Regions from separate parts of the Homo sapiens genome. Here region 2 is linked to region 1. Evidence: fine-mapped expression QTL. Tissue or cell type: whole blood. Region 1 holds a variant in brackets; the other region holds the start of a gene. All regions are shown on one strand. Distances are between the middles of the regions.

Region 1 (5,000 bases):
CTCACCCCAGTGCTGGGCAGGGGCTGCTGCCTCCTGAGTCAGTTCTGGAGACTCTCAAAGGAGAAAGAGGTGAGATAGTAGGTCATGGGGCCAGGTGCACTGGGCAGCCGTCACCCACAGGCTTACCCTATGAACTGTGGGATCATTTAAATAATGACATTAGCTCTTATTCCCCCACCGCACTCTCTTCAACACAGTACAGGGAATGAAACCTTATAACAACATCCTCAAAGGGTTTCCTTCAGCCCATGACCACAGACTTGCTCCTGGCTCTAGAGACAGGCTTTCAATTAAAAACAGAAAATTTCAGCCATCTGAAATGGGGCTCGGCTTGGCAAAAGAGAAATCAGGGACTATCTGATAGTTTAGCCAGAGAACGATGATTTACTTAGTTTGCGAGAGAGATGGATGATATCTCCTTTGAATTTTACTCCAGTTTAAGGAAATCACGGACTTACTGAAATTGACTATCATGAATGAAGTTCAGTGCTGTGTGGGACAGTACCAGGGTTCTGTCACAGAGTGATCGAGGTCCCTTAGCATCACAATGCCCGGATGTGCACTACCTCTTCATCATTGAAACGTGCGATTGGGGGGAGACATGACCTACTCAACATCTCCCGTGACTATGGTTCTAATTATCTAAGTAGAATAAGCAGGCCCAGACTCAGCAGCAGGGGCGTTCCCGCTGCGTTCCATGGGATTTGCTATATGCAGGTCTGCAAAATTCAGCCAATGCCAGGCATGCACTGTGCTCTCCCAGGCATTGTCTCATTTAACTCCTCTCCAGCCCAGGAGCAGGTTGTAGCAGCACTTTCCAGATGGGAAAACCTGGGCTTAGGAAAGATGAATGGCTGGCCAGGATTGTGCAGCCCTTGTGATGGGTTTGAATCCAGGGCTGCCCACTCCCCATCTAGGATATTTCCCCAGGGAAGAAAATGGATGTTTCTGCAATGGATGTTTTCCCTTACAGAAAAGCCAGGGCCCACAGGACTTTTCAGATAAAGTGCACCAGGGGGACCTGGCAGCTGGGCCTGGAGGTGGGACCAACAAGGGTTTCCTCCCAGAGCCCCCTGGGCTCTATACCGACCAGGGGAGGGGGCACTTCTGGGCAAGGCCACCACTGTGACCTTTCAAAGACTTGTGCTAATAGATCACCTTGTGACATTCGGAGCCAGCTGCCCCTGGGGGAACACAGGTCTCCTCTTATTAACCAAGACAAATGAGGTTTCCCTTTGCCCCAGACTTGAGGGCCCAGCTTCCCCTCCCTGAGATCTGTTGCTGCTCCTGCATCTCTGGCAATTTTGGCTGACAAAGTCCATGATGCATTCGTCCACCCTGCCCCTGGAAGGCTTCATCACTCTTGGCACATTTTCTAGTCTGGTCTGACAACCTTCCTGAAAGTCTCACAGGATCTATTTTTTAATGTAATTTAAAAGTTTTAAGAATAAGACATTTCTATGGTTCAAAATTCAAAAGATATGAAGGAGGATGCAGGGAGAGTCTCTCTCCCGGTTGGCGTGGGCAGCAACCCATGGTACCAGCGAGAGTCTCTGCAACTCCCGTCAACGCTCACTCCATTTGTTCTTCTTTTTCACACAAATGGGAGCTTGCTCCATGCATGTCGGGGGTACTCTGTGTTTGCTTTTGTTGTTTTGGTTGGTGTGTTTGTTTTTGTGGGTTTTGGGTTTTATTTGGTGGTTTTGCTTAGCAACCTTTTGGTGCTCCTTCCCCATCAGGACCTACCAAGGGTCCCACTGCAGGGATAGGTCCTGGTTTCAGGAGGGTGCCCTGGGGTCATTTCCAGTTGTTTGCTCTTATGAGCCTCAATGATGGAACAATTCCTAGAGCCCACCTCCTCCCTCTAGCGTTCTGTTTGGGAAATCTGTTTGGTGGTGGGGCTGAGGGGCTTCCCTGAGTGTGGCTGTGAGTGGTAGCAGAGCACAGTCAAGTCCCAGCCTCCTGACTCCTCAGACAGTGTTCAATCCATCAAGCCATTCAACAGTTTCCCAGCACCAGGCACCTTCTAGAGCAACTCCCCCAGTTAGTAAGGGGCAGCGTGAGATGCCCAGTCTGTGAGTACAGTCTGGCCTGTGGAAGACGGCCAGCCCCCACCCCCTGCAATGTGAGAACGCCAGATCACCCCCACCCTCCTAAATCTCGCCACCATCTGGTTCTTATGTGGATGCTGGTTTTCAACAAGCTGGGATATATTTAGCCTGGAGATGAGACAATGAGGA[T/A]GGATGGGGGGGCCCCAAACATTGTCTCTGCTGAGAAAGTGGTTTCGCAAAGTGGTAGCAGCAGAAATTCAGAAACAAAAACTCCATGCATCTGAACAAATCTGGCTATTTGTGAGGTCACTCTGTGGGGTTTTTCACCATGGCTCGCGGCTCGTGCCTGGGTACAGAGGTGGAACTGTGGCCCCCCAGCTGGAAGAGTGTAAAGCTCCAGGTGCCCCTCGGGATTTCCCACCCTTAGTTGTCTGGGACAGCACTCAGGAGCAACTGCAGGCTGCAGGGCCCCTCCTTTCTCTGGGAGCCTCTTAGAAGAGAAAAATCCCTCTGGGCTAAGCTTGAGGGATGGGGGTCTCAGCCTACCAGGAGAGTAATCATTCTAAATGACCTCTCCCTGTTGCCAAGGTTGTCCCTTGGGTTCCTGGGGCAGGGGTGCAGGAGTCAGCCAGTGCTTCAAGATACTCCCACTCTCCGCCAAGAAGGGCACCTCGCCCAGTAGGGAGAAGGGGGTTGCCCCTGGGAGCCCAGCACTCGGTGCCTGACATGCATTGTCTCCATTCCTCTCCAGCACCGCCCTGGAAGGAGGGGAAATTATTCCCAATTTACAGACAAGGAAATGAGGCCAAATGTCTTGCTCGAGTCAGCTTGAGCACCAGCTCAGACCAGCTAGCATGCCAGGATACCCCCTTTCACCCCAAAACACACCTGAAATCAGCTTCCCTTAATGGAGCCCACTCCCATCTGAATGTCACTCATCTGTTTTTAGCCATAGAATCCAGAAGGCCCTTGGGGCAGTGGGAGATTGCAGGGAGGGAGGGGAAACAAGTGGAACATGGCCACTCTTTCAAGCTTCAGGTGAATTTGGACCCAGGATCCCGGAACTTAGCCATGCACTGGCCCTTTGGGCAGCAGCAATGAGCTGCCGTGGGGGTTAGTTCACCTCTGTCCTGTGGGCACCTGCTCTCTAATAGCTGGGTGTTGGGCTTTCTAGACACCTGTTATTCCAGGAATCAGCTGTCTTCCTAGCAAGCCTCCTGCCACACATCTTTGCTGAGCCCCTGATCTATCAGGAAACAAATGTCCTGGCCTTCCCAGCAAGGGTCACTGGGAAAGGGGCACAGCACTTTCTGTTTTATGGCTGCCTTAAGGTGTCCTCTCACTCTCAAGAAAATCTGGGGCAACCCTGAGGGTACCTGCTGTGTCCCCCACATGGCCGTCCTATGACCCTTGTCATAGTGCTGTCCCACGGAAGGTGGGGAGTCCTAGCCTCCTGCGCACAGGTCAGCCTGTGGGAGCCACTTAGGAAACAGCATCTGTAATTGCCTTCCTCATGGCAAGGCTTTCACTGGCAGAAGTGAAATTCACTTAGAAATGATCACAGGGAGCCATTAAAACCTTCTGGATCAATAAAGGCATTTGTGCCTGTCTCTAGTATTTAAAGTGACAGGCGTGATGGTGCATCGGGAACGCCCCTCAAGCCTCTTGCTCATCAAGATGTTGACTTCAGCTGTGGGACAGTTGCCCTATTTGTGGATGACTGTGTCATTTGTTGCAAAGCTGCACGTCACGTGCTTTTCCTGAAGTCTCTACTTTGAATGACATTTGCTCATTCATTCAGTCAACCAACACCTATTTATTGGGCCTCTCCTTAGGGCCAGAAGCCAGGAAGAGAGTTAGGGACCTGCTGCAGAGCGGTTGAGTCTCATGCAGCTCTCCCAGCATCCCTTCGGAGTTAGTTTAATTATCCCTGTCTTACAGGTGAAGAAACTGAGATCATAGACTTTCTCGAGGATTCAGAATCAAAGTTCAAATCCAAATGTGCCTGCTTCGCGTCTCCAAATCTGGTTTCTCCATTTCATCGCCTGTCCCTTCCGGGGTTGGGGTCTAGTGACTGTGTAGCCATTTGTCATGGGTTTTGGCCCCAAATTATCCTCAGGCGACGACCCCTGGGGTCTGGGTTGAGCTGGCATAATTGGGAGCTCTGTGGTTACACAAACCTGGTTTCACCAGGGTCATGGGGCAGGTGCGGGGGGTCTCACCTCAATGGGGGAGCCATGCAGGGGCTCCTCTCTCCTGAGCTGGATCCAAGGCTCTCTCAATGCTCCTGTAGGACTATTCGAGGATTTTGAAACACTTGATGGAAAAGGCATCAAGAATGTTAAAGTTTTGGATTCCACGTCCTTTTTGGGTGAGCAACTCCCCTCTGAGGCTTCCCTGGTGTGCTCACAGCTCAGGATGGAGGTTGTGGGAGAGCAGGAGCAGCAGTCATCTGGTCGACCTCGACAATGTGATCCATCTGGGTGCGGGACCTGCCATGACTCCTTCCTTCCCCACTGCTTCCTCGTCATGCCGCCTCAATGGCCCCTGCTCAACCGTTCTGCTTTCCTTCATGCACAATCAACCCACTTCCTCTGCTTAGCTCTTTCTCCTCCCATCCTACCCTTTCCTCCTTCAGGAGAGATTAGGCTCATGAAATCAACAAATCTTAAAAGAGCAGCAGGGAAAGGGGATCTCTTTTGCAGTTGTTCAAAACATCCTGCCCCTGCATGGCAGCTCTCCTCTTTCTTGGGGCTTTTATGGGGAAGAGGCTAAACACCTAATTTGTTTTAAGCCATGAAGTTATCATTAAAATATTTGCCTCTACACAATTGAGTCTTGTTAGAAATATGGCTTGGAACTTACTATGCAGGTTTAGAAAAAGAGCTGAAGATCAGGGCTATGCAAACATCTCTTATGGTGGTTCCTTTGAAAGGGCAGCTTGCCCTG
Region 2 (5,129 bases), 110 kb before region 1:
AACTGCATGCGAATCTACAATTATCTCAGAATAAGTTTAATTAAAAGAAAAAGCCAGATACAGAACAATACGATCTGTCTCTTAACTCCCAAATTCCCAGTTGGCTGGCCACACACCACAGTCTCAGTTCTGTCCATAACCAAGTTTGGGGGATCTCTTCAAGTTTGCAAATGTCACTTCTACTGAGATCCCTCTGACAACTTCAGTGAAGTCTCTCCTCAAAGCTTTTTTTTTTTTTTTTTTTTTTTGAGACAGAGCCTTGCTCTGTCGCTCAGGCTGGAGTGCAATCACTGCAACCTCTGTCTCCCGGGTTCAAGCGATTCTCCTGCCTCAGCCTCCCGAGTAGCTGGGATTACAGGTGCCCGCTACCATGCCCAGCTAATTTTTGTATTTTTAGTAGAGATGGGGTTTCACCATGTTGGTCAGGCTGGTCTCCAGCTCCTGACCTCAGATGATCCACCTGCCTGGCCTCCCAAAGGACTGGGATTACAGGCGTGAGCCACTGAGCCCGGCCTCTCCTCCAAATTTTCAAGCTGTGTATTTTAAATCATAAAATGTTAGAGCCAGGAACATTTGAAATAATGCCTTGATAAAAGCGTCCATCAGACCCCCGAGCACCCTTCCTTTCCATGAATTATAACCAACGGAAATCCGGTGCACTTAGCATGTCCAGCTTTGAGTGAAGCCCCCAAGCTTCCTGCCCCTGAGACTGCCGCCCCTAAACCTCTCTTGCATGGATTCTGTAGAGCTGCCCCGACCAGAAGTCACTTAGCCACTCCTCTGCTCCAGGCCTCGTGGCCTGCTGGAGGCCAGACAGTGGGTAAGTCACGCTCAGCAGTGCCTACAACTCAAGCCACTGCTCAAAGGCTGTTGTTTTATTTCTCAAGTTAGACCACAGGCTCTGTAGCAACTTGGGCCTCCTTGGACACACACAGTGTGACGCTGAGACACAGTCCTCAACGCTGCTATGGTGTAGAATTTTTTGCGGAGAAAGACAGGAAGGCCTCTTGAGGTCAGTGTGAGACAGGGACACTCCACTGGGGCATAGGTATATCACTCACAGGTTGAAGGTAGGTAGACTGAGGCTCAAAGAGCAAGCGGAGGAGCTAATGTTCAACCCAGGTGGTGTGGAGTCTCAGTCCAGTGGCCTTACCCTCCACGGCCACGTTGCTAGTTATACTGGACAGAGCTCAGACTGTGCCCTGGCCTGTGTAGATGCACCAGAGGTTTTATCTGGGGGTCACAGCCGCTGGGAACGGGAGAGTTGCTGGGGATTGCCAGGAAGGGACAAGGCATTTGTAGCCATGCACCATCTGCTTTTACACTACCCTAGAGTCAAGTGGACCCCCTCCAGCATTTTTTTTTCCCCGAGATGGAGTCTCACTCTGTCACCCAGGCTGAAGTGCAATGGTGTGGTATCGGCTCACTGCAACCTCTGCCTCCCGGGTTCAAGCGATTCTCCTGAGTAGCTGGGACTACAGGCGCATGCCACCACGACCGGTTAATTGCCCCTCCAGCATTGTATGTGTCTGACTGCAATGAAGTGTGAGTGTGTCTGTGTGCGACTGTGTGTGTATGATGTGAGTGTGTCTGTGTCTATGTGGGGGCCAGGTGTATAGTCTGCATATGTCTGTGCACCTCTGTGTCTCTGTGGGTTGTCTGTGCCTATGTCTCGGCTTGTGTGTGTGCATGCATGTGTGGTCTGTGTGTGTCTGTATGCATGTGGTATCTCTGGGATGTGTGTCTGTATGTCCCTGCGTGCAGTGTAGTGACTTTGGGAGTGCACATGTGTACACGTGTGGTGAGTGTGCGGCCCTGCGCGAGTTGTCTGTGTACGTGTGGTGCCTGTGGGTCTGTGTGCGCGCGTGTGCCCGTGGGTGTGGTGTGTCCTCCCGCGCTGAGGCTCCCATGAACCCAGCTCAGTTCAGGCCTCCCTGACAGTCCTCGGGCGGCCACCCCGGGGCGCGGCTGTCCACGAGGCGCGGAGGAGAGGAGTGCGTGGCTGGGTCGGCGGGCGGCGCCCCCGCTCCTCCCCGCGGGCCGGGCACACGTGGGCCCCGGGCGCCGCCTCCCCGCGCCGCCCGCCGCCCGCCGGGTCCCGCGCGTCCCCACCCACCTCGGGCCGCCCCCGCCGCCGAGCCGGCCCAGGGATAAAGTGGCGGCGCAGACGCCGCACCCTGTCGCCGCGAAGCCGGTCGCGCGCAGCTCGTCCCGGCCCTGGCCCGCCGCAAACGAGGATCCGCTGCGCTCGGGGAACGCGACAGCGGCGCTCGTGGCCCCGGTAACTGCCTCCCGGCCCCTGCCCCAGCCCGCCAGTGCCGCCGTCAGGGGTGGGGAGCAGCACTGGGGTCCCGGACACGCCCGGCGTGGGCTCCCGCTACCCATGTGTGCGTGTGTGTGTGTGCACGGTGTGTGTGCGCGCGTGTCCGAGTGTGCGCGCGTGTGCGCGCGCGCGCGCCCTCCCTGCTCCTTCGCACCAGCCCCCAAACCAACTTGTCCCCATCAACTCCATCTTTCTAGTCCCCACCTTCCCCGGTGCAGACACCCGGCGAAGCCCACCCGGTTTTCCCAGCGGCATTTCCGATGACAGCTTCGGGGCTACGTGTCCTGTGCTGTCGGAGACGCACAGGAAGCAAAGTTTGTGAGAAGCCTTGGGGGCGACTTTGCCTTGGGCACCCGCATTTGTGCGTCTGCGAGGTGCCTCGGTGTGCGCGGAGCTAGTTTCCCAGTTTCCCGGGCCCCTCCCTTCTCCGAGCCCCTCTAGCGATTTGTTTAGGAAAAGTGATGACATGAACTAGTAGTGGAGAATCGCAGCGCCGCTCCCCGCCCTGGGGAGGGAGGGGAGCCCCGGAGAGCCTGCCGGTGGGAGCTGGAAGCAGGCTCCCGGCTGAGCGCCCCAGCCCGAAAGGCAGGGTCTGGGTGCGGGAAGAGGGCTCGGAGCTGCCTTCCTGCTGCCTTGGGGCCGCCCAGATGAGGGAACAGCCCGATTTGCCTGGTTCTGATTCTCCAGGCTGTCGTGGTTGTGGAATGCAAACGCCAGCACATAATGGAAACAGGTTTGTCATGTATCCTTGGAATTTCAGATGGGAGGAATAATCTGAGTATCATCCACCTCATTATTGTGCCCACTTGAAACTGTTCCTTGGAGATTTTAAGATAGATGGGTCTTCTTGCAGCTGGGTCTTTGTACCCATAGAGCTGACTATAATTTCCACTTGATTACAGCTAAAATAGTCTTTAAGATGAAGTTTCCTGAAATGATTTAAAATAAACACAGATGGGAAGGGGGAAAAACTGTAATGAGGCACTTAAAAAATAAAGTGAGCATTTTCTTAAGAACAAATGGGATTTTTCAGTCTTGGAGAGGTTTGCAAGAAATGTATGTATGTTTTAAACCTTTGAAACAGAGGGGTTTTTTAAACTGCTTTTAAAAAAATGTTACTGACTCTGAACTAGACTTTTCTCTCCTATCCATACATGTTCTTGAGATATTTCTGACTTTGGAATATGTCACTTTTCCTTCTAGGACCTGAAGACCCTTCCAGCATGCCAGAGGAAAGTTCCCCCAGGCGGACCCCGCAGAGCATTCCCTACCAGGACCTCCCTCACCTGGTCAATGCAGACGGACAGTACCTCTTCTGCAGGTACTGGAAACCCACAGGCACACCCAAGTAAGTCTTCCCCAGAAAGTCACCCCAGGTGACAGGGGAGCATGGCCCCTGCTTCTCCTCTGGTCGTTATCATGTGCCATCTGGGGCGGGGCCGCTTTCTCTATGACCTACTTCCCCTGCCGTTTTAATGTTAGGCTGAGCAATGTTAACAAAGCTAAAATGTATACTTTATAATTTTTAAATTTAAGAAGCAGGAATTCTTTTTTCATTATAACAACTCAGATATGGATCCTACCGTATGGCAATTTTCAAAAATTCCACATGACTTTATTTTTTGTACTGGAGTTGATTTCCGGTTGTACAGGCATTCATTTAAAATCAAACCCGACAATTAAGGAAAATCCCCTAGATGGATGAGAAACCCGAAGTAATACATATATCTTCACCTTTGCTCACTTTTCCTGCTTGTTTCTGAGCTTCTGAAGATGGCATACATGTGTCACCAGGAAGAAAGGGGCCTGGGTATTTCCTTCTGATTCCTTGCCAGCTCAATTACTTTGTACATTTTCCATCAAGGATTTGTCTTGCTATTAGAAGCAAACATTGGGACTATACACAAGACAGCTGGTCTCCTGCTGCTGCTCCCTCCTCTTGGATGAAGCAGGAAAACCCTGCTTGTTTGTGTTATTTGGAAAAAGAATTTATTTGTGGTAACCAATTGGCCTGGTGACAAGAACATTTCCTGTTCCAGGGACATTTTACCTGTTTTGTAGGCCTCTTGTCTCCTAGGGATCATTGTGTGGTTGGATTATGTCTCTCTTTGTGCTCCAGTAATCACCCAACCCTCACACAGGTGTAAAATTTCTTCTCTGTCTTCATCAAGGTATCTATGATCCAGGGAGCTGCACGTTAAAAACACAGAGATATGGACTTTTAAAACCCGGCATAGAGTCATAGCTTCAGGGCAGCTACACAGACTGGCTATGGTTTCTCTCTAGTGTTTTCAAGTGGGTAACGTGCTGAGAAGAGTTCCTACCAGTTCTGGTAATACATTTCTTAAAGAATGTGTCTGTACGTGCATACGCATTAGAGGAAGTGGGGGGGTTGTTGAGCATTATGATGCTAATTAATCATTAATTCTCCACTCTGACTTAACTGGCTGTAGAATTGCTCAATCTTGGATTAATTTCTAACAGATTAGTGGTTTGTGGTAATTTGATCAATATACAGAAAGAAGACAAATAATTGAAAATAGAAGTTTTTAATGTCTGAGTCTCAGACTTGGGGGGCTTTGTTGGTTAAGTAGTGAGGTTGTCCTAGTTCGAAGTCAACAAAAATAAAGAGGTTCTGCAGTCCTGGCACAGGGGGAGGGTGGTGGGTGAGTGGGTTAGAAACGGTCAAGTTGGCTGCCCTGCCCTCCCTTCGCCTGCGGGTGGTTTTCACAATCTCTGTGCTGAAGTTGCATTGCAGGGAGCCCTCTCTGCTCCGTTGCTTTTGCTCTAGTTAGAGATGATAACT

What was found. PIP is the estimated chance that this variant, and not a neighbour inherited with it, causes the effect.
Region 2: it holds the start of MGLL, and the variant in region 1 is fine-mapped to the expression of MGLL in whole blood (INTERVAL, PIP above 0.99).

What each region holds. Positions count from the first base shown.
Region 1 is chr3:127,715,275-127,720,274 of GRCh38, reverse strand. The region is part of intron 5 of MGLL (monoglyceride lipase); the gene reads left to right. Among named protein-coding and RNA genes, the nearest start is that of ABTB1, 45 kb to the right of the region's middle. The variant T/A (reference allele first, on the strand shown) is at 2,241.
Region 2 is chr3:127,820,236-127,825,364 of GRCh38, reverse strand. MGLL (monoglyceride lipase) reads left to right here and starts at 2,850. Exons shown (of 8, transcript NM_007283.7): 1 at 2,850-3,056; 2 at 3,527-3,671. The coding sequence starts at 3,047. RefSeq lists a silencer at 1,889-2,408.